Linked DNA regions of Homo sapiens. The protein of the gene in region 1 interacts with the protein of each later gene in a pairwise test. Each region holds a gene or a part of one and is shown in the gene's direction. Other genes may lie near its edges.

Region 1 (8,583 bases):
TCCTATAGGGGCAGAGGGTAGGGGAGGAAACAGACAGGGAGAATGGGCAAAGTGGCGAGAGAGAAGGCAGTGGCACAAGCTGGCCACATACATAGCAGGCATCCCTTCCCAACTTTACCCCATGATGGGCCGCCAGTAGCTTTGCTGCCCCTGACCTTTATCCCACCCCCACCCCAGGATACACGGCCTTCAATGGTGTGGACTTTGAAGGCACCTTCCATGTGAACACAGTGACTGATGATGACTACGCAGGCTTTCTCTTCAGTTATCAAGACAGTGGCCGCTTCTACGTAGTCATGTGGAAGCAGACCGAGCAGACCTACTGGCAGGCTACACCCTTCCGGGCGGTTGCCCAGCCCGGGCTGCAGCTCAAGGTCCCCAGCTGCTCAGATTCCGCAACCCAGGGCCCTTTCCCAAAGCTCTCCTCTGCAGCCCCAGGGCCTCCCCCACTGCTTGACTGGGAACCCTCTTACCCAGACATCTGGCTTGGAGGCCGGCTCTCTGGGGCCCCAGGGCATTTTCATGACCGCCTTGAATCCCTTTCCCACCTGCACTTACCGACCTGTTGTCTCCCCTCACTCCAGTTCTGCAGTTGACCCACTGTCTTTGCCAATGTCTCCTAGGCAGTGACATCAGTGTCTGGCCCAGGTGAGCACCTCCGAAATGCCCTGTGGCATACTGGCCACACCCCTGATCAGGTACGACTGCTGTGGACAGACCCACGAAATGTGGGCTGGCGGGACAAGACCTCCTATCGCTGGCAGCTTCTGCACCGGCCTCAAGTTGGCTACATTCGGTAAGGAGAGGGGCTGAGCCCACCTGTGGGACTCAGGCCGGGCCTGTCCTTCCTCTTTAGCTGGGATTCACCAGTGACCTCTCCATGGGTGGGAACTGCAGCCACTTCTCTCCATCACCCTTCTCACCACGGACACAAGCACCTATGAGTGATGTTGGTGAAGTCACTCCTCCATGACCCATTTTCCCGTCTGTAAAATGAGGGCATTGGGTTAGATGCCCTTTACAGTTCTCCAGAAGCCTCCAAACCCAGGCCAATCTGTGAAGGGGCACATCACATCTGGTCCCTTAGTTGGTATGACCTGGAACCTGTCTTATCAACGTGGATAGGGATCATCTGACCTGGAAGGCATCATCATTTACAGAAGAGAAAATCAAGGCCCTGACTTCACAGGCCTCGGTTCAACACTTTGTCCACAACTTTGCATTTCTCTCCAACAAGTAGCCCTAGTTGGTGGAGATGAACAGGAAGGGAGGGGAAATGGGTCTGCTTAGAGGCTGGACTTTCCATGGCCAAGAGCCCAGAGTCCAGGAACCTGGGTTGGTTCCCCTTTAAGGTGCCTGGGGCTGTGGGGTGCCAGGACAGGGGATAAAAGGGGGTGGACTAGAGCCTGGGAAGCGGGTGACTTCACCCCCCAGCCCATTGTGCTTATTGTCATGGCAACCCAATCCTCGCTTGGAATGCGGCTGGTGCTTTGAGATGCAAAAGGAGCTGGACAAAGAGCTAGGGGCCCCAGGCCTGAGAAAAGCACCCCCCTTCCCTCTCCTTCCTGCCTCCCTTTCCCTCCCTCCCTTCTCTCTCAGGCCTGGTGAGCTCAAGGGGGGCTGGGGAAAAGCAAGGCCCCAGGCATGGTGGCACAGTGCCCACTGGCACCCTAGCACCAATGGATACTCCTATCCTGGAATCCTGGACAGGGTGAAGCTCTATGAGGGACCCCAGCTTGTGGCGGATTCTGGGGTGATCATTGACACATCCATGCGAGGGGGGCGTCTTGGTGTATTCTGCTTCTCCCAAGAAAACATAATTTGGTCCAATCTCCAGTATCGATGCAATGGTGAGGTGGCTGATTGAGATCAACCTAATCCTTCATGCCTTGTGGGAGAGCCACATCCTCTGACCTTACTTATTTCCCCTTCTTCAGACACAGTGCCTGAGGACTTTGAGCCATTCCGGAGGCAGCTGCTCCAGGGAAGGGTGTGAGGAGGAGGCCACCAGATTCAGAATTCAGAATTTTAGACCCTTTGGCCTTGGGGTCCATCCTGGAGACCCTGAGGTCTAAGCTACAGCCCCTCAGCCAACCACAGACCCTTCTCTGGCTCCCAAAAGGAGTTCAGTCCCAGAGGGGTGGTCACCCCACCCTTCAGGGGATGAGAAGTTTTCAAGGGGTATTACTCAGGCACTAACCCCAGGAAAGATGACAGCACATTGCCATAAAGTTTTGGTTGTTTTCTAAGCCAGTGCAACTGCTTATTTTAGGGATTTTCCGGGATAGGGTGGGGAAGTGGAAGGAATCGGCGAGTAGAAGAGAAAGCCTGGGAGGGTGGAAGTTAGGGATCTAGGGGAAGTTTGGCTGATTTGGGGATGCGGGTGGGGGAGGTGCTGGATGGAGTTAAGTGAAGGATAGGGTGCCTGAGGGAGGATGCCCGAAGTCCTCCCAGACCCACTTACTCACGGTGGCAGCGGCGACACTCCAGTCTATCAAAGATCCGCCGGGATGGAGAGCCAGGAGGGCGGGGGCTGCCCCGCTAGGGGTAGCGGGGAGGCCGGGGGGCCGGGGGGGCCGGAGGCCGGGACGAGTGCAATATTGGCGGGGGAAAAAACAACACTGCACCGCGTCCCGTCCCTCCCGCCCGCCCGGGGCCCGGGATCCCGCTCCCCACCGCCTGAAGCCGGCCCGACCCGGGAACCCGGGGCGCGCTGGGGAGTTGGGTTCACCTTGGAGGCCAGAGAGACTTGGCGCCCGGAAGGCAAAGGGAATGGCAAGGGGGAGGGGGGAGGGAGAACGGGAGTTTGCGGAGTCCCAGAAGGCCGCTTTCCGACGCCCGGGCGTTGCGCGCGCTTGCTCTTTAAGTACTCAGACTGCGCGGCGCGGAGCCGTCGCCATGGTGACGCGTGTCCCAGCAACCGAACTGAATGGCTGTTGCTTGGCAATGCCGGGAGTTGAGGTTTGGGGCCGCCCACCTAGCTACTCGTGTTTTCTCCGGCCTGCGAGTTGGGGGGCTCCCCGCCTCCCCGGCCCGCGCTCCCGGGCGCGCTGACGTCAGATGTCCCCACCCCGCCCAGCGCCTGCCCCAGGGTCTCGCCGCACACAAAGCTGCGCCTCGGGCGCCGCGCGGCGCGCGGGCGAGAGCTGTGGTCTCTCGCCTGCTGATCTGATGCGCTCCAATCCCGTGCCTCGCCGAAGTGTTTTTAAAGTGTTCTTTCCAACCTGTGTCTTTGGGGCTGAGAACTGTTTTCTGAATACAGGCGGAACTGCTTCCGTCGGCCTAGAGCGCAGCCTGCGACTGCGGGACCCAAGTTCCACGTGCTGCCGCGGCCTGGGATAGCTTCCTCCCCTCGTGCACTGCTGCCGCACACACCTCTTGGCTGTCGCGCATTACGCACCTCACGTGTGCTTTTGCCCCCCGCTACGTGCCTACCTGTCCCCAATACCACTCTGCTCCCCAAAGGATAGTTCTGTGTCCGTAAATCCCATTCTGTCACCCCACCTACTCTCTGCCCCCCCCTTTTTTGTTTTGAGACGGAGTCTTGCTCTGTCGCCCAGGCTGGAGTGCAATGGCGCGATCTCGGCTCACTGCAACCTCCGCCTCCCGGGTTCAAGCGATTCTCCTGCCTCAGCCTCCTGAGTAGCTGGGGTTACAGCGCCCGCCACCACGCTCGGCTAATTTTTGTAGTTTTTAGTAGAGACGAGGTTTCACCATCTTGGCCAGGCTGGTCTTGAACCCCTGACCTTGTGATCCACTCGCCTCGGCCTTCCAAAGTGTTGGGATTACGGGCGTGAGCCACCGTGCCACGCCCGATCTGCCTCTTAAGTACATAACGGCCCACACAGAACGTGTCCAACTCCCCCGCCCACGTTCCAACGTCCTCTCCCACATACCTCGGTGCCCCTTCCACATACCTCAGGACCCCACCCGCTTAGCTCCATTTCCTCCAGACGCCACCACCACGCGTCCCGGAGTGCCCCCTCCTAAAGCTCCCAGCCGTCCACCATGCTGTGCGTTCCTCCCTCCCTGGCCACGGCAGTGACCCTTCTCTCCCGGGCCCTGCTTCCCTCTCGCGGGCTCTCGCTGCCTCACTTAGGCAGCGCTGCCCTTACTCCTCTCCGCCCGGTCCGAGCGGCCCCTCAGCTTGCGCGGCCCAGCCCCGCAAGGCTCCCGGTGACCACTAGAGGGCGGGAGGAGCTCCTGGCCAGTGGTGGAGAGTGGCAAGGAAGGACCCTAGGGTTCATCGGAGCCCAGGTTTACTCCCTTAAGTGGAAATTTCTTCCCCCACTCCCTCCTTGGCTTTCTCCAAGGAGGGAACCCAGGCTGCTGGAAAGTCCGGCTGGGGCGGGGACTGTGGGTTTCAGGGTAGAACTGCGTGTGGAACGGGACAGGGAGCGGTTAGAAGGGTGGGGCTATTCCGGGAAGTGGTGGGGGGAGGGAGCCCAAAACTAGCACCTAGTCCACTCATTATCCAGCCCTCTTATTTCTCGGCCCCGCTCTGCTTCAGTGGACCCGGGGAGGGCGGGGAAGTGGAGTGGGAGACCTAGGGGTGGGCTTCCCGACCTTGCTGTACAGGACCTCGACCTAGCTGGCTTTGTTCCCCATCCCCACGTTAGTTGTTGCCCTGAGGCTAAAACTAGAGCCCAGGGGCCCCAAGTTCCAGACTGCCCCTCCCCCCTCCCCCGGAGCCAGGGAGTGGTTGGTGAAAGGGGGAGGCCAGCTGGAGAACAAACGGGTAGTCAGGGGGTTGAGCGATTAGAGCCCTTGTACCCTACCCAGGAATGGTTGGGGAGGAGGAGGAAGAGGTAGGAGGTAGGGGAGGGGGCGGGGTTTTGTCACCTGTCACCTGCTCCGGCTGTGCCTAGGGCGGGCGGGCGGGGAGTGGGGGGACCGGTATAAAGCGGTAGGCGCCTGTGCCCGCTCCACCTCTCAAGCAGCCAGCGCCTGCCTGAATCTGTTCTGCCCCCTCCCCACCCATTTCACCACCACCATGACACCGGGCACCCAGTCTCCTTTCTTCCTGCTGCTGCTCCTCACAGTGCTTACAGGTGAGGGGCACGAGGTGGGGAGTGGGCTGCCCTGCTTAGGTGGTCTTCGTGGTCTTTCTGTGGGTTTTGCTCCCTGGCAGATGGCACCATGAAGTTAAGGTAAGAATTGCAGACAGAGGCTGCCCTGTCTGTGCCAGAAGGAGGGAGAGGCTAAGGACAGGCTGAGAAGAGTTGCCCCCAACCCTGAGAGTGGGTACCAGGGGCAAGCAAATGTCCTGTAGAGAAGTCTAGGGGGAAGAGAGTAGGGAGAGGGAAGGCTTAAGAGGGGAAGAAATGCAGGGGCCATGAGCCAAGGCCTATGGGCAGAGAGAAGGAGGCTGCTGCAGGGAAGGAGGCGGCCAACCCAGGGGTTACTGAGGCTGCCCACTCCCCAGTCCTCCTGGTATTATTTCTCTGGTGGCCAGAGCTTATATTTTCTTCTTGCTCTTATTTTTCCTTCATAAAGACCCAACCCTATGACTTTAACTTCTTACAGCTACCACAGCCCCTAAACCCGCAACAGTTGTTACGGGTTCTGGTCATGCAAGCTCTACCCCAGGTGGAGAAAAGGAGACTTCGGCTACCCAGAGAAGTTCAGTGCCCAGCTCTACTGAGAAGAATGCTGTGAGTATGACCAGCAGCGTACTCTCCAGCCACAGCCCCGGTTCAGGCTCCTCCACCACTCAGGGACAGGATGTCACTCTGGCCCCGGCCACGGAACCAGCTTCAGGTTCAGCTGCCACCTGGGGACAGGATGTCACCTCGGTCCCAGTCACCAGGCCAGCCCTGGGCTCCACCACCCCGCCAGCCCACGATGTCACCTCAGCCCCGGACAACAAGCCAGCCCCGGGCTCCACCGCCCCCCCAGCCCACGGTGTCACCTCGGCCCCGGACACCAGGCCGGCCCCGGGCTCCACCGCCCCCCAAGCCCACGGTGTCACCTCGGCCCCGGACACCAGGCCGGCCCCGGGCTCCACCGCCCCCCCAGCCCACGGTGTCACCTCGGCCCCGGACACCAGGCCCGCCCCGGGCTCCACCGCCCCCCCAGCCCACGGTGTCACCTCGGCCCCGGACACCAGGTCCGCCCCGGGCTCCACCGCGCCCGCAGCCCACGGTGTCACCTCGGCCCCGGACACCAGGTCGGTCCCGGGCTCCACCGCCCCCCAAGCCCACGGTGTCACCTCGGCCCCGGACACCAGGCCGGCCCCGGGCTCCACCGCCCCCCCAGCCCACGGTGTCACCTCGGCCCCGGACACCAGGCCGGTTCCGGGCTCCACCGCCCCCCCAGCCCACGGTGTCACCTCGGCCCCGGACACCAGGCCGGCCCCGGGCTCCACCGCCCCCCCAGTCTACGGTGTCACCTCGGCCTCGGAGAGCAGGCCGGACCCGGGCTCCACCGCGCCCGCAGTCTACGATGTCACCTCGGCCCTCGGAGAGAAGGACGGACCCGGGCTCCACCGCGCCCGCAGCCCACGGTGTCACCTCGGCCCCGGACACCAGGCCGGCCCCGGGCTCCACCGCCCCCCAAGCCCACGGTGTCACCTCGGCCCCGGACACCAGGCCGGCCCCGGGCTCCACCGCCCCCCCAGCCCACGGTGTCACCTCGGCCCCGGACACCAGGCCCGCCCCGGGCTCCACCGCCCCCCCAGCCCACGGTGTCACCTCGGCCCCGGACACCAGGCCCGCCCCGGGCTCCACCGCGCCCGCAGCCCACGGTGTCACCTCGGCCCCGGACACCAGGCCGGCCCCGGGCTCCACCGCCCCCCAAGCCCACGGTGTCACCTCGGCCCCGGACACCAGGCCGGCCCCGGGCTCCACCGCCCCCCCAGCCCACGGTGTCACCTCGGCCCCGGACCCCTGCCGGCCCCGGGCTCCACCGCCCCCCCAGCCCAGTTTTCCAACCCCGGACACCAGGCCGGCCCCGGCTCCACCGCCCCCCCAGACACCAGGCCGGCCCCGGGCTCCACCGCCCCCCAAGCCCACGGTGTCACCTCGACCCCGGACACCAGGCCGGCCCCGGGCTCCACCGCCCCCCCAGCCCACGGTGTCACCTCGGCCCCGGACACCAGGCCCGCCCCGGGCTCCACCGCCCCCCCAGCCCACGGTGTCACCTCGGCCCCGGACACCAGGCCCGCCCCGGGCTCCACCGCGCCCGCAGCCCACGGTGTCACCTCGGCCCCGGACACCAGGCCGGCCCCGGGCTCCACCGCCCCCCAAGCCCACGGTGTCACCTCGGCCCCGGACACCAGGCCGGCCCCGGGCTCCACCGCCCCCCCAGCCCACGGTGTCACCTCGGCCCCGGACACCAGGCCGGCCCCAGGGCTCCACCGCCCCCCCAGCCCACGGTGTCACCTCGGCCCCGGACACCAGGCCGGCCCCGGGCTCCCCCCCCCCCCCAGCCCACGGTGTCACCTCGGCCCCGGAGAGTTCCGCCCCGGGCTCCACCGCGCCCGCAGCCCACGGTGTCACCTCGGCCCCAGAGAGCAGGCCGGCCCCGGGCTCCACCGCGCCCGCAGCCCACGGAGTCACCACGGCCCCGGAAAGCAGTTCTGGCCCGGGCTCCACCGCGCCCCCAGCCCACGGTGTCACCTCGGCCCCGGACACCAGGCCGGCCCCGGGCTCCACCGCGCCCGCAGCCCACGGTGTCACCTCGGCCCCGGAGAGCAGGCCGGCCCCGGGCTCCACCGCGCCCGCAGCCCACGGTGTCACCTCGGCCCCGGAGAGCAGGCCGGCCCCGGGCTCCACCGCCCCCCCAGCCCACGGTGTCACCTCGGCCCCGGACACCAGGCCGGCCCCGGGCTCCACCGCCCCCCCAACCCACGGTGTCACCTCGGCCCCGGACACCAGTCCCGCCCCGGGCTCCACCGCCCCCCCAGCCCACGGTGTCACCTCGGCCCCGGACACAAGGCCCGCCCCGGGCTACACCGCGCCCGCAGCCCACGGTGTCACCTCGGCCCCGGACACCAGGCCGGCCCCGGGCTCCACCGCCCCCCAAGCCCACGGTGTCACCTCGGCCCCGGACACCAGGCCGGCCCCGGGCTCCACCGCCCCCCCAGCCCACGGTGTCACCTCGGCCCCGGACACCAGGCCGGCCCCGGGCTCCACCGCCCCCCCAGCCCACGGTGTCACCTCGGCCCCGGACACCAGGCCGGCCCCGGGCTCCACCGCCCCCCCAGCCCACGGTGTCACCTCGGCCCCGGAGAGCAGGCCGGCCCCGGGCTCCACCGCGAGAGCAGCCCACGGTGTCACCTCGGCCCCGGAGAGCAGGCCGGCCCCGGGCTCCACCGCCCCCCCAGCCCACGGTGTCACCTCGGCCCCGGACACCAGGCCGGCCCCGGGCTCCACCGCCCCCCCAGCCCACGGTGTCACCTCGGCCCCGGACACCAGGCCGGCCCCGGGCTCCACCGCCCCCCCAGCCCACGGTGTCACCTCGGCCCCGGACACCAGGCCGGCCCCGGGCTCCACCGCCCCCCCAGCCCACGGTGTCACCTCGGCCCCGGACACCAGGCCGGCCCCGGGCTCCACCGCCCCCCCAGCCCACGGTGTCACCTCG
Region 2 (7,666 bases), on another chromosome or scaffold:
ATCTATATCTGTGTCTATGTCTATGTTTATGTGTACTTGTGTGTCTGTGTTTCTAAGTTTGTGACTTTGTCTATGTGCGTGTGTGTCTGTGTCTATGTCTATGTTTATGTGTATTTGTGTGTCTGTGTTTCTAAGTCTGTGACTTCATCTATGTGTGTGCGTCTGTGTCTATCTGTGTCTATGTTTATGTGTATTTGTATTTGTGTGCCTGTGTTTCTAAGTCTGTGACTTTGTCTATGTGTGTGTGTCTATGTCTATGTTTGTTTATGTGTATTTGTGTGTCTGTGTTTCTAAATCTGTGACTTCATCTATGTGTGTTTGTGTCTGTGTCTATGTCTGTGTTTATGTGTATTTGTGTGTCCATGTTTCTAAGTCTGTGACAGTCTATGTGTGTGTGTGTCTGTGTCTATATCTATATCTGTGTCTATGTCTATGTTTACGTGTATTTGTGTGTCTGTGTTTCTAAGTCTGTGACTTTGTCTATGTGTGTGTGTGTCTGTGTCTATATCTGTGTCTATGTCTAGGTTTATGTGTATTTGTGTGCCTGTGTTTCTAAGTCTGTGACTTAGTCTATGTGTGCGTGTGTCTGTGTCTATGTCTATGTTTATGTGTGTTTGTGTTTCTAAGTCTGTGATTTTGTGTATGTGTGTGTATGTCTGTGTCTATATCTGTGTCTATGTCTATGTTTACGTGTATTTGTGTGTCTGTGTTTCTAAGTCTGTGACTTAGTCTATATGTGTGTGCCTGTGTCTATATCTGTGTCTATGTCTATGTTTATGTGTATTTGTGTGTCCATGTTTCTAAGTCTGTGACTTAGTCTATGTGTGTGTGTGTCTGTGTCTATATCTGTGTCTATGTCTAGGTTTACGTGTATTTGTGTGTCTGTGTTTCTAAGTCTGTGACTTTATCTATGTGTGTGTGTCTGTGTCTATATCTGTGTCTATGTCTATGTTTATGTGTATTTATGTGTCTGTGTTTCTAAGTCTGTGACTTTGTCTATGTGTGTGTGTGTCTATGTCTATGTTTATGTGTGTCTGTGTTTCTAAGTCTGTGTTTTTGTGTATGTGTGCGTATGTCTGTGTCTATATCTGTGTCTATGTCTATGTTTACGTGTATTTGTGTGTCTGTGTTTCTAAGTCTGTGACTTAGTCTATATGTGTGTGCCTGTGTCTATATCTGTGTCTATGTCTATGTTTATTTGTATTTGTGTGTTTGTGTTTCTAAGTCTGTGACTTTATGTGTGTGTGTCTGTGTCTATATCTGTGTTATGTCTATGTTTATGTGTATTTGTGTGTCTGTGTCAGTTTCTAAGTCTATGACTTTGTCTATGTGTGTTTGTGTCTGTGTCTATGTCTTTGTCTATGTGTAGGTCTATTGTGACAGATGCATTAAACCTCTAGATCAGAGCAGCCCATGTCTTGCTCACAGCAATACTGTTAGCCAGAGTGGGATTGTGGCACTGGCTCTTCATCCTCAAGTCAAATTTCTCCAAGGGTAATGTTTTCACTTGTATGTGCAGCAGAGTTTGCATCCTAAGAGAGGGGCCCTACATTATGAGTCTTGGCACATTTTCTATTTCTTCCCAAGAAAGAGAATGAGAGAGACAGAGAAAGAGAGAGAGAGAGATTGAGTGAGAATGGTAGCTTTGTGAGAGATGGTGTGCTTTGTTCTGGAGCATAAACAAATCCTCTTCAGTGAGATGCCATAGTCCTTAGCCTTACAACCCAAACGTCTCCAGGGGGATAAGATTCTCTAGATTTATCACTCTAGAATGTGGGCAAATCTTTGAAGCAATACTTAATCTCTAATTTCCAAGGGAAATTGCCATTTAATTCTCCTGTAACTCAGGTTGCCAGTAACTTTTTCTCAGAAACTTTTCATTAAAATATTCATGGGTCATTGAGTCTTCCCAGTAGGAACCCAAGAGGAGGCAAGGAAGCCAGAGAGGAAGGCCATGAGGTGAGGGCTCTGGCCATGGTGACCAAGAGGGGTCTAGGAGTGCAAGATGGACTTGGATTTCTGGAAAAAGGATGAATCTTCAGAGACTGTCTCAGATTAGACTCAAGAGCCCTTAGAGCTAGTGTGACTTTTTATGGGGGTGGGGGTTGGGGGGGGTTACTGCCTTCTCTCCAGGATGAAGACGGGAAGAAGTTATCTGATGAGGACATAAGAGCAGAAGCTGACACCTTTATGTTTGAGGGTGAGGGCCCCAGTGTGGGGCTAGAGAGGGGACCGGGATCTCTCCCTTCCAGGAACAGGGTGGGTAGACCCCCACAACCTTCCCATCCCCCTTCCCCCATCCTCCCTGAGGCCCTCAATGCATGGGTGCTGTCTACCTTCGGGTGCTGAAGCAGCCCAGAGACCCAAGCCTGCCTTGCTGCCCCCCAGGCCATGACACCACGGCCAGTGGTCTCTCCTGGGTCCTGTACCACCTTGCAAAGCACCCAGAATACCAGGAGCGCTGCCGGCAGGAGGTGCAAGAACTTCTGAAGGACCGTGAGCCTAAAGAGATTGAATGGTGAGTGCAGGTGCTTGTGGCCTCTTCCTGAGACCTTCTCATTGGCTCTGCTCCCCAGGTGGGGAGGGGAGGAAAAGCTGTTTTTGTTGATTCTGCCACTATTGCCTAGTGGGAATAGGAGCAGAGGACCACAGGCAGGACTTAGTACCCATCCTGACTGTCTGGGGAAAGGTTATAGGCCCTTAGGACAGAAAGACCTGGGCTTCTGAGAGAGTTGGTGATGATATGTGAGGACAGATAACGCCACTTAGACGTGTTCAGCAAATGAACTTCCCCTCCACTCTCTTCCTTTCCTCCCAGAAATATCATTTTTTTTGAACATCTTCACTTCTTGAATGTTTGCTCTTCTGTTCCCTAATTCCTACTCTCCAGTCGAGTCCAGGGTTTTATAAGGGAGACCTAGGGGTAAAATTCATCCATTCTTGTCCGGAACACTTGCACTGTTCATCCGTCCCATCCTTATTCAGCAAACACTCCCACACTGCATTTTCACCCCCACATCTGTGCACAGCATCTTTCTGTGCTCTGGAGACCTGGGAAGGAACCAACCCAGGGATCTGTTTTCCAGGTGCTCCCAGCCTGGTGGTGGAGCTGTCCCTGGGCAGGACACTCCCAGCCCACATGGGCAGAGATGGGATTTACAGTAAGAGAAGCAGGACTAGGGGGTATAGAAAGTGTCTCAGTTGAGAGCCTAAATAATGATCAGTAGATAATTGGGTACAGTTGGGGGGCAGTGCTCTAGGTCAAGAAGACTGCCTGGGGTCTTTGGGGGAGGAAGAGAGAGGGAGGAAGAGAGAGAGGAGAGCGAGGGAGAGAGAGAGAAGGAGAGAGAGAGAGAGCAGGGTCAGGACAGAAAGGAGGAGAAGGGGAGAGAGAGGGAGAGACTGAGTTGTAATGAGATGATAAAACCGGAGATGGTAGCAGGGGCTGGCTGTGGAAGCCTTGGGGAAAATGTTAATGGCTTCAGTTTTAGCCCAATGGCAATAGGGAGCCATGGGAAGTGTTTGAGCAGTGTAGGGACAGGTCACATCTGGGTACCAGGAAGATCTTTCTAGGGCTAGTGTGGAGGGCGTACTGGAGAGGACCAGCTGTAGAATGAAGGCACAGTGGGGACATTCTGAGACCAGAGCCAGGCCAGGGGCTGGAGGAAGGAGAGGAAGCATTGGAATGGACGGATGTCTTGGATTCAGTGTCCTCTCGTCCACACCTTTGCCCAGCACAGCAGTCCAGTGAGGAGGAGAAACATTTTTCTGCTTTTAAAACCAATAATTTTTCTGCATTTTTAACAAACAATTTTTTATTGCTGCATAAATAGATGCACATAGATTTGAAATACATGTGATAATCTAATACATTCATATAACTGGTAAAGATCAAATCAGTGTACTTGGGATATCTGTCGCCTGAAATATTTAGTCTTTTCTTTATGCTAGAAACATAACTAACATAAGCTAACTATTTAGGAATATACAGTACATATCGTAAACTATAGTGAACCCACTGATCTATCAAGTGCTAGGTTTTATTTCTCCTATCAAACCTCTTATTTATGCCCGTTAATCAACTTCTCCTCACCCCTCCCTCCCTTCTACCAATCTACCTTCTACTTTCATGAGATCCACTTTTTCAGCTCCCACATGTGAGTGAGAACATGCGATATTTGTCTTTCTCTTTTTGGCTTATTTACTTACCACAGTGACCTCCAGTTCCATCCATGTTGCCACAAATGACAAAATTCCAGTGTTTTTAATGGTGCATAGTATTCCATTGTGTATACATGCCACATTTCCTTTCTTCCTTCCTTCCTTCCTCCCTCCCTCCCTCTCTCTCTTTCTCTCTTTCTTCTTTCCTTTCTTTCTTTCTTTGAGACAGAGTCTTGTTCTGTCGCCCAGGCTGAAGTGCGGTGGCACGATCTTGGCTCACTGCAACCTCTGCCTCCCGGGTTCAAGCTATTCTTCTGCCTCAGCCTCCCAAGCAGCTGGGACTATGGGTGCACACCACCATGCCTGGCTAATTTTTGTATTTTTAATAGGGCTGGGGTTTCACCATATTGGCCAGGCTGGTCTCGAACTCCTGACCTCATGATCTGCCTGCCTCGGCCTCCCAAAGTGCTGGGATTACAGGCATGAGCCACCGCACCCGGCCGCCACATTTTCTTTATCCATTCAGTTGATGGGCACTTAGGTTGATTCCATATTTTGGCTGTTTTGAATAGTGCTGCAATAAATACGGAAGTATAGATATCTCTTCAACAGTTTTATTTTCTTTCTTTGGGATAGAAATTTCTTCTCTTTCTTTTCAGTAGTGGAATTTCTGGGTTATATGTTAGTTCTACTTTTAGTTTCTTGAGGAACCTCTGTGCTGTTCTCTGCAGTGGCTGCGCTAATTTATATTCCTGCCAACAGTGTGTGAGAGTTCCCCTTTCTCCATATCCTCACCAGTGTCTATCGTTGCCTGTCTTTTTGATAAAAGCCATTTTAACTGGGATGAGATGATATCTCATTGTGGTTTTGATTTGCATTTCTCTGATGATTAGTGACATTGAGCATTTTTCCATCTATCTGTTGGCCATTTGTATGTCTTATTTTAAGAAATGTCTATTCAGATCTTTTGACCATTTTTAAATAAGATGATTTGAGTTCTTTTTCCCCTATTGAGTTATTTGAGCTCCTTATATAATATATTCTGGTTATTAATCGCTTGTCAGATGAGTAATTTGAGAATATTTTCTGCCATTCTGTAAGTTGATTCTTCACTTTGTTGACTGTTTCCTTTGCTGTGCAGAAGCTTTTTACCTTGATGTAATCTCATTTGTCTATTGCCTGTGCTTTTGAGGTCTTAACACAGAAAATCTTTGCCTGGACCCATGTCCTGGAGTATAAAATCCAGATTTCAAGCAAAATTATGGATGTGGTTAAAAGAAAGGGTCCAAAAAATTTTATGATAAAAATGAGCTTCCTTATTAAGCTCCACCTTAGCAGTGACTATGGTCAACAGTTTTCTGTGTATTCTTCCAGAAAATGGCTATCCCAATGCCCACATTTATATGAATTCACACTGTGATTTTTATTTATATGAACACATACTGTGTTTTTCTTTGTAAAGAAAACTATACAAAATAGACGCAGTTCTGGACATTATCTCTGAGATCTATTTTTCTTAAAATACGAGTTTTCAAAAATGAGTTTGTTTTTAAATTGTTCTTTCATTGATAAATTTTAATTATATATATTAGAGGTACAATGTGATGTTATGATGTATGTATACAACCTGAAATTATTAAATCAAGGTAATGAACAAATCCATCACTTCATATATTTATCATTTTTATGTTGAGAACATATATATATTAGAGGTACAATGTGATGTTATGATGTATGTATACAACCTGAAATTATTAAATCAAGGTAATGAACAAATCCATCACTTCATATATTTATCATTTTTATGTTGAGAACATTTGAAATTTACTCTCTTAGCAATTTCAATTAATACATTGTTCACTAAATCACCATGCTGTGCAGTAGATCTCAAAAACTATTCCTCTTGTCTAACTGAAGCTTCTATCCTTTGACCAACATCTCACCCTTCTCTATCCCTCCCTCAGCCCTGGCCTCTGGTAACCATCATTCTGCTTCTATTTCTTTTCTTTTCTTTCTTTCTTTTTTTTTTCATTTTTGAGATGGAGTCTCGCTCTGTCACCCAGGCTGGAGTGCAGTGGCACGATCTCAGCTTACTGCGACCTCTGCCTCCCAGGTTCAAGTGATTCTCCTGCCTCAGCCTCCTGAGTAGCTGGGATTACAGGCTCCCGCAACCACGCTTGGCTAATTTTTTTGTATTTTTATTAGAGACGGGGTTTCACCATATTGGACAGGCTGGTCTTGAACTCCTGACCTTGTGATCTGCCGCCCTTGGCCTCCCAAAGTGCTGGGATTACAGGCGTGAGCCACCGCGCCCGACCTCCACTCCTGTTTCTATGAGCTTGACTATTTTAGGTCCCAAGATAAGTAAGATCATGTGTGTTTGTGTTTCTGAGCCTAGCTTACTTCACTTAGCATAAGTTCCTCCAGGTTCTTTCATGTTGTGGCAAACAAAATAAGTTTTCTTTCTTTTTTTTTTTTTAAGGCTGAATGGTATTCCATTGTATATACACACCACATGGAAAATGAGCATTAAATTATAAAACCAGTGATAAGAACAGATTCTTCTTGCACCAAATGAGATATTACAGATAAGACTAGCTTTTTCCTTGACAATCCTGCCACCCCACCTAATCCTTTCTCATTCTCCAAAGGTGTCTCCAGAGCCATAGATTTGTTATCTATCTATCTATCTATCTATCTATCTATCTATCTATCCATCATCTATCTATGTATCTATATACCTATCTACTATCTATATATCATCTATGTATCTCTGTTTCTATCATCTATGTATGTATCTGTCTATTCTCTATCTCTCTATATCTCTTATTTATTATCTGTCATCTATCAATCTATCATCTATCTCTGAATCATTAATTTCATAAATATATATTCATATACTTTTTGCCCTTTTTATGTGCACAAATGTATATATTTGTAACTTGTTTTCACTCGACAGTGTGTCTTAATGCTATTTTTTTCTGAATGCTAAATATTTTATTCCTTATTTATTCAGCTCATTCCTATGTTGAATGCACATAAACATTTTCAGTTATAGTAGATATTTCCAATTTGCCTTCCACAGTGTCTGTACTGATTTACCTTCCAGCCTGCAGAATGTGATGAGACTAGTGATCCCTATTTCCTCCTTTTGTGTAGCTGTATAGTATTCCATCGTGTGGCTGTTTATCTAAACATCTTCCCATCAATGTGTATGTGGCTTGTTTCCAACCTTTTGCTAAAAGTGGACATGAGGCAGTCAGCATGTGTGCACAGTGACCATTCCTTGCATGTATAAGCATCTCTGCAGGACAAATTCCCTGAAGTGCAATTGCTGAATCAAAGAACATTTGCACTGTACAATTTTAATTATCATTGCAAATCCTTTCCTATTAGCTGAGTTTGATGGCACAAGTTTTCCCATAACTTTACCAATACTACTAATGTATTATTAAATTTTAAAATCTATGCCAATCTTCATATTTCTTCTTTTGATGGACATTGT
Region 3 (7,666 bases), about 76 Mb from region 1:
TTTTAACAGAATACAATTAGACATATCCAGGTAGGGAGAGAATTATACCTAAATGAGTTAAGCAAACATTAAAAGAAAAATGTTTTTTTAAAACATAATTTATTGCATTTTATACTTTGCTATTAAAGGAATGTATAAGGTAAATAACATTCAGTTTAATCAAAGTCCTGATTTATAAAGTTGAATTTTTCAAAATAAACTTTTAGTTTATTGAATTGTGAGCTCTTTAATAGTTTGGGTAGAGTTGACAGATAACATACAGGACAGTCAATTAAATTTGAATTTCATATATACCATGAATTAATTTTTTAGTATAAGAATGTCCCAAATATTGCATGGAACATACTTATACAATAAAAATGGATTCATGGTGTGTGTGAAACTCAAATTTAACTGGCGGTCCTGTTATTTTATTTATTTATTTATTTTTGAGACGGAGTCTTGCTCTGTCACCCAGGCTGAAGTGCAGTGGCGTGATCTCGGCTCACTGCAGCCTCTACCTCCTGGGTTCAAGTGTTCTACTGCCTCAGCCTCCCAAGTAGCTGGGATTACAGGCACGCATCACCAAGCCCAGCTAATTTTTGTATTTCTAGTAGAGATGAGGTTCGCCATGTTGACCAGGCTAGTCTGGAATTCCTGACCTCAAGTGATCCTCCCACCTCAGCCTCCCAAAGTATTGGGATTACAGGCATGAGCTACTGTGCCCAGCTCTTCCTCACTTTATATTGATGGAGAAAGTTCAACCTGAAGGAGGAATACATAGAAAAAAGCCAATTTTTGTTGCCTAGTATTTTTTATTTTAGCCAAAATTTCAGACTTTTAAGAATTAGGTTTTAATTGTTCTCTTTTAACATATTGAGTCATACTCATCCAGCTGGAGATATTTTTAAAAAACTGATGTTCAGACTAATAGTTTCTTATTCAATATCATGGAATCTTCAGATTAAGTCTATTCTCTTATTGCTGTTCCCACATATACATGAATCACATAAGTTTTTTGCTTGATTCTGTATAAAGGACAGAAATCAAAAATGTATAATGAAAGGTGAACTATTATTTAAAGCAGTGATTCTTAACTAGGGGTGCACATTAGAATCCCCCCAGAACTGTTTCAAAGTATGATGTCTATGTTGTACTATGAAGATTCTCAATCAGGACCTGGGCTCAGACATTTAAATTTTGAAAAAAATCTCCCCATGTGCTTCTGATGGACATTGCTGATTAAAACTCACTGATTACAAAATGACTACAATTAGCCACTTAATTGGGCAGTCCTGAATTTGAAAAGTGACTAGGTGGGATGCCACAAATACTCTGTACCTGTTGATACTAGTGCAACTGGGTTTCCTTACCTAATTGAATGGCAATGTCTTTGACTATCAGATCCATGGAAAACTCTGCATATTTTGTTTGCTTTGTGAAGCATACCTGAGGTGGTGGCAGCTTCAAGATTCCAACCAGAATACTGCCCCTGATGACTTGATCAGATATGCTAAGGAATGGGATTTCTATAGAATGTTTGCGATTGCTGCTTTAGGTAAGGAGATGCCATGCTTTCCATTCTTAGTTAACTATTCTTACTTAACTAATCTGGTTAAAACTAAGACATGTAGTCTTAATTGTTGGTAAGAAGAGCTAGTTAATATGGGACTTAAGATGAAATTTTCAGCTCTACCACTACTAACCTACGAGGTGAGTGTGTTTGAATCACCTGCTTTTTAAAAATTTGTTACCACGTATATGGTATGGAAGTAGTTATGCTTATCGGATTAGAAAGTTTCATAAAATATTTCGAAGCACAATATTGTTGATAAAATTCTTTTATTTTTATTATTATATATTTTTTAAGACAGGGTCTCACTCTGTTGCCTAGGCTGGAGTGCAGTGGCACAGTCACAGCTCACTGCAGCCCTGAACTCCTGGGCTCAAGCAATCCTCCTGCCTCGGCCCCCCCAGGTAGCTGGAACCACAGGTATGCACCACCACACCATGCACCACCTCCAGCTAATTTTTGTATTTTTTTGTTGAGATGGGGGGTCTTTCCGTGTTGCCCAGGCTGGTCTTGAACTCCTGAACTCAAGCAGTCCTCCCACCTCAGCCTCCCAAAGTGCTGGGATTACAGGTGTGAGCCACTGTGCCTGGCCAATAAAATTCTTAATGTTTAAGTTTTGATTATCCAATCTGAAAGTTAGCTAAGTCCTATCTTTATTAATAGAGATAATTGCCAGACATTACCCAATGTATTGTACTAATTGCATTATACTAATGCAGTGTATTTAATAGGGTTTGGTATTTTTTGTTACTTGTTACTTATCTGAGTGCATGCAGGGAATTTGGCTACTCCTCAAAATTCCTTAAGTTCAGGAAGTGCTTTTCAGAATTTCACTTCATAAGTTATTGTTTTCCTAGTGTCAGAATTGTGTTGAGCTAATTTCTGTGACTATTTTATTGCTAGTTCCATGCTTCTCTGCTTCTCAACTCTTTGATTATAATGAAATCTTACTTTAGTAATACTAAGTCTCCAGTCCACTCCAATATCACATTTCTGGGCTGTGTGTCTTCTTTTGTCCTCTTTTTTTCTCTGTCTGCTCTCGCTCTCTTGGTCATGTAACCTGTCTGCTGAGAACTCTCAAATGTCCATCTAGACCTTTCTCCAGACCTCCAGACTCTGCATCCCTCTGCCTTCTCAACATCACCACTTGGATATCTAATAAATCACCATACCCATAATTGAGCTCCTCATCTCTCTGCCTCTACCACAGCCTTCTCCTTCTCAGTTGTAACTCCATTCTTTTAGTTGCATTCACCAGAAAACCTTGCAGTCATCCCTGATGCCTCTTTCTTTGATACCCCATAGTCAGGTCATCAGGAAATCCCATTGGCTCCACCTTCAAAGTACTTCTACTTTTTTTTTTTTTTTTTTGAGACGGAGTCTCACTCTGTCGCCCAGGCTGGAGTGCAGTGGCGCGGTCTTGACTCACTGCAACCTCTGCCTCCTGGGTTCAAGCAGTTCTCCTGCCTTAGCCTCCCGAGTAGCTGGGATTACAGGCACGTGCCACCATGCTTAGCTAATTTTTGTATTTTTAGTAGAGACGGCTTCACCATGTTGGTCAGGCTGGTCTCGAACTTCTGACCTCGTGATCCGTCCGCCTCTGCCTCCCAAAGTGCTGGGATTACAGGCATGAGCCACTGCGCCCAGCCACACTTCTACTATTATACTACTGCTACCCTCCATTCCCTCCACGGCTGCCACACTGTTGCAGGCCACTCTCATCCTTCACCTGCATGACTACAGTAGCCTCCTTGTTTGCTAGCCCAGTTCTCCAACTGTGTATTTGCACGCAACACAGAGTAGTCCTTTTCAACCAAATCAGATCATGTCACTGTTGTGCTAGAACACAGTAGCTCCCCGTTTCACTCAGAGTGCAAGCTGAAGTCTTTACAGTGGGCCTTGTACTGGAATCTGCCCCTCCCACTGCGTCTCTCATTTTATCCACAGCTGTCATCTCCCATGTCTACTCTGACCCTCCCCATCTAGTTAACTTGCTTCAGAAACACTGGATGAGCTTCCACCTTAAGGCCTTTGAAGTGGCTCTTCCTGTGCCCGGAATGCCTGTCCCCCTGATGCCCAGATGTCTGACTCCTGCATACCCCTCAAGAGTTGGCTAAAATGACACTTTCTAAATGAAGTGTACCTCTGACACTCCTGATCTCCTGTTCCGGCTCTACTTTGTTTTTCTTATGGTACTTACTATTTAACATATCACAGAAGTTATTATCTTTTGTTAGTGCCTTTCCCCACTAACATGTCAACTGAATGAGGTCAGGGCTCTTTGTGTTAGTCACGGTTGTAGCTCAAGCACTTAGGTGCCTGGCCCAGGTGCTTAATAAATATTTGCTCAGCTGATTGAATGAATGATTGCATACATTCATCCACGCACTCTTAACTTGAGCAAGTCACCATCAGTTACACTCGGTGATTATTCATTCACTATTCATTATTATTCATTCCCTTAAGAAATATTTTTAAATACTTATTAGGTGCCAGTTACTACTTTAGGTACTTTAGGTACTAGAGATATATCCATGGAAAATACATAGAAAAATCTCCGCCTCCATTATTATGTAATTACTAAGGCTTATGACAGCTTAACCGCCATGATGTCCAGTCTATCGATAATTTTGTATACAATTTGGACTTTGCAACAATTTAAAATATTTGAAATATACAAAAGAATATGTTAACCTTTTTATCTTATGAAACATAATACTACTGAAAACATCCTTGAGCACATCATCTAGCCCAAGAACTAGAACCTAATATGATTTTAAACCTTAAAGCAAAGCCTCTTAAAAATTTTTTTTAATTTTTATTTTTTTAAGAGTGAAGGTCTTGCTCTGTCACCGAGGCTAGGGTGCAGTGGCACAGTCATAGCTCACTGCAGCCTGGAGCTCCTGGGCTCAAGGGATCCCCCTGCCTCCGTCTCCTGAGTAGCTGGAACTACAGGTACATGCTACTGTGCCTGGCTAATTTAAAAAAAAAAATTTATGTAAAGGCAGTATCTTACTCTGTTGTCCAGGTTGGTCTTGAACTCCTGGGCTCAAACAGTCCTCCCATATGGGCCTCCCAAAGTGCTGAGACTGCAGGCATCAGCCACTGTTCCTGGCCCTTCTTAAAATTTCTAAAGATAAACTGTTATATGTCCATATTTTGTATATACTATTAAAAACCAGGCTTGTTTTTAAATGGGTTGGAATTCTTATAGCAACTACTCTGTAGTAGATATTTTGATGCTTAATCAGAAGTTTCTTTCTACTATTACTTAACTTTTTTATGTGTCTTAGTCTAATCCCTAATTAGACTGTATAGTCCAAAAGAATATCTTGGCCGGGCGTGGTACCTCACACCTGTAATCCCAGCACTTTGGGAGGCCAAGACAGGTGGATTACTTGAGCTCGGAAGTTGGAAACCAGCCTGGGCAACATGGCAATATTCTGTCTCTACAAAAAATACAAAAATTAGCTGGGCATGGTGGCATGTGCCTGTAGTCCTAGCTACTTGAGGGGCAGAGACAGGAGGATCGCTTGAGCCCAGGAGGTCAAAGCTGCAGTGAGTCATGTTCATGCCACTGCACTTTTGCCTGGATGACCAAGACAGACTCTGTCTCAAAAAACTAAAAGAATATCTTACATAAATAAAGCATTTTATAATTTAAAAACTGCTTTTACAGGAATTATTTAATTTTCACAATCATCCTCTGAGGTAGGTAGGTTAGGGGTTCCCCCATCTATAGCTGCAGAAACATAGATGCATAGATTTTCCCGAAGTCTCACAGTGGGTCACTAGTGCTGAAACTGAGGAAAGTCTCCCGACCCCCTTCAGTGTTTTCCACACTGGAGTATTCTATACGTAGGTAGCAGCTCCTTCTGAACTGACCTGATTGATGAGAGCCTGAGGGCTGGTGTAGTTCCATAAATCTCGTAAATCCTAAATTTAAAAGATGTGGAGGTTATCTAGTCTAGCCTGTGTGGCGCAAGAAATCTTTCTGTCTAGACTCCTGAGAGATGCTGTAGCTTTGAGTGTCTCCAGTGACAGGAGTCAACCCACCATTGTTAGATGGTTCTTGTTATTCGCTATTCTTTCACTATTTATTCATTCAAGGAATTATTTATTGTTATTTTTATCCAAAATCCAAGCTTTACAATCTACCTGAGTACATTCTTGTAGCTGACAAGTCTTTTAGTTATTTTGAAGGGAGATAGCATGTCTCCCTTGAAGAATACATCATATTTCATGGAGGTTAACCATCCTAATTTTTTTTTTTTTTTTTTTGAGACGGAGTCTCGCTCTGTCGCCCAGACTGGAGTGCAGTGGCACAATCTCGGCTCACTGCAAGCTCCGCCTCCCGGGTTCACGCCATTCTCCTGCGTCAGCCTCCCGAGTAGCTGGGACTACAGGCGCCTGCCACCACTCCCGGCTAATTGTTTTTTGTATTTTTAGTAGAGACGGGGTTTCACCGTGTTAGCCAGGATGATCTCAATCTCCTGACCTTGTGATCCGCCTGCCTCGGCCTCCCAAAGTGCTGGGATTACAGGCATGAGCCACCATGCCCAGCCCCTAAATTATTTTTATTGATCCTAATTACCTACATTTGGAACCTCTTTAGTTTGGCTTTATTAAGTTTAAAAAAGAGGATAGTTGTTTCTGCTGTAATATAATACATGTGTCCAGAGAAACCTGATTCTGCAGAAACCTAAACTGCTAATAACATAGCTTATATGGGAAAAAATAAAATAAGGGACTGGCCACTCAGAATGGATACAGTTGGGTAATCGGATGACTAACAATCCTAATAAAAATTACAGCACAGTTAAAAGAGATGTTAAATTCCTAGTTAATAGAAGCTGAACAGATTGTGCTGTGTTCTGACCATAGGACACAGTGGAACTATTGCTGCTGTTAATCTGGACTCTGTCCTATGAATACTTTCTGGAAGTGTAAGGAATTGCATTTTAAAATGTTGTTAAAATGAGTAAAGGAAGTCTCAGTTAACAATATTAAAAAATCATGTGGATAATAGGCACTTAAATAGTGGAAGAATGCACAGAGAAAAATGTCTTCCTGTGTTATCCCATTCTTACGATAGGTCCCATCTTTCAGACTGAAAAGCCTGCATTCTCCTGTTTTATTCTTTGGAGATCTCTTACACTGAAGATGTTTAAGCAGAATCTTACTTCCTTCAAGGAACTTCAGAAAGTTGATGATTACAATTCTAATGGAGTTACTTTTTCTTCAGTGGATAATGTTTCTGAAATTATACCAGCAGGATCTAATACAAAAGCCAGGGGTTTATTTAAAAAAAAAAAACAACACACAAACAAAAAGAAGAAGAAAAAGAGATTGTGATCTTGAGAAAGTATTTCTTATGAAGTCAGCTGATAAGCTGTATTTTAGAATGGTGGTTTATTTGTTTTTAAGGGGATATATTTTGGATGGGGACATTCATACTTTTATTTTCCATTTCTTCTTTAGAACAAACTGCCTATTTTATTGGCATTTTTACCTTCCTGTGGGTAGAACGGCCCATGACGGCAAAAAAAAAGCCCAACTTCATTTTGCTGCTGAAAGCATTATTATTATCTAGCTACGGAAAACTCTTGCTGATTCCAGCTGTCATTTGGGAACATGACTACACATCTGTGTGCCTCAAACTCATTAAAGTATTTGTTCTTACATCAAATTTTCAGGCAATTAGAGGTATGTTTATGTGTTTATTCTGCCTTCTCAGTTTTCAACCCATAAAAAGCTTAAAGCCTTGTTTCTGGGGTGCAGTTTTTATATAACCTGTTGAACACTGGAATTCTTCATCGCATAGTAATAATACCTAACACTTCTATAGCACCTTATACATAGCAGGTACTCAGTGTTTGTTACATTTAACCATATAGTACTTTATAGTTTTCAAAATGCTCTCATATGCATCATCTCTGTCCTGTGAGGTTAGTAGAACTGCCATTATTTGATTTTATGAATGAGCTCCTGGGGCTCTGAGGGTTAAGTGGCTTGTCCGACGTTACATGGCTGGGCAGTTATCAAGTCAGGAGAGAATGCTGAGTATCTGCCTCTCAATCCAGGACAATTTCTACTATATCAGGAAGAGCAGCC

Evidence for each region. The genes of interacting proteins can lie anywhere in the genome.
Region 2: the proteins of MUC1 (region 1) and CYP4F2 interact in binary tests that used the Homo sapiens proteins (3 or more experiments, as listed by UniProt).
Region 3: the proteins of MUC1 (region 1) and ARV1 interact in binary tests that used the Homo sapiens proteins (3 or more experiments, as listed by UniProt).

What each region holds. Positions count from the first base shown.
Region 1 is NC_000001.11:155,189,254-155,197,836, reverse strand, and holds the start of MUC1 (mucin-1 isoform 10 precursor), read left to right. Parts: upstream 1-4,921; 5' UTR 4,922-4,993; coding exon 4,994-5,051; intron 5,052-5,526; coding exon 5,527-5,929; coding exon of another isoform or gene 5,930-6,289; intron 6,290-6,530; coding exon of another isoform or gene 6,531-6,856; intron 6,857-7,185; coding exon of another isoform or gene 7,186-7,348; intron 7,349-7,349; coding exon of another isoform or gene 7,350-7,457; intron 7,458-7,634; coding exon of another isoform or gene 7,635-8,583. Other genes in the region: THBS3 (thrombospondin-3), read left to right, coding at 178-374, 624-796, 1,711-1,850, 1,938-1,996. UniProt on the Homo sapiens protein: The alpha subunit has cell adhesive properties. Can act both as an adhesion and an anti-adhesion protein. May provide a protective layer on epithelial cells against bacterial and enzyme attack.
Region 2 is NC_000019.10:15,880,776-15,888,441, reverse strand, and holds part of CYP4F2 (cytochrome P450 4F2 precursor), read left to right. Parts: intron 1-2,133; coding exon 2,134-2,200; intron 2,201-2,388; coding exon 2,389-2,518; intron 2,519-7,666. UniProt on the Homo sapiens protein: A cytochrome P450 monooxygenase involved in the metabolism of various endogenous substrates, including fatty acids, eicosanoids and vitamins.
Region 3 is NC_000001.11:230,988,727-230,996,392, forward strand, and holds part of ARV1 (protein ARV1), read left to right. Parts: intron 1-1,383; coding exon 1,384-1,537; intron 1,538-1,849; coding exon of another isoform or gene 1,850-1,972; intron 1,973-7,033; coding exon 7,034-7,258; intron 7,259-7,666. UniProt on the Homo sapiens protein: Plays a role as a mediator in the endoplasmic reticulum (ER) cholesterol and bile acid homeostasis. Participates in sterol transport out of the ER and distribution into plasma membranes.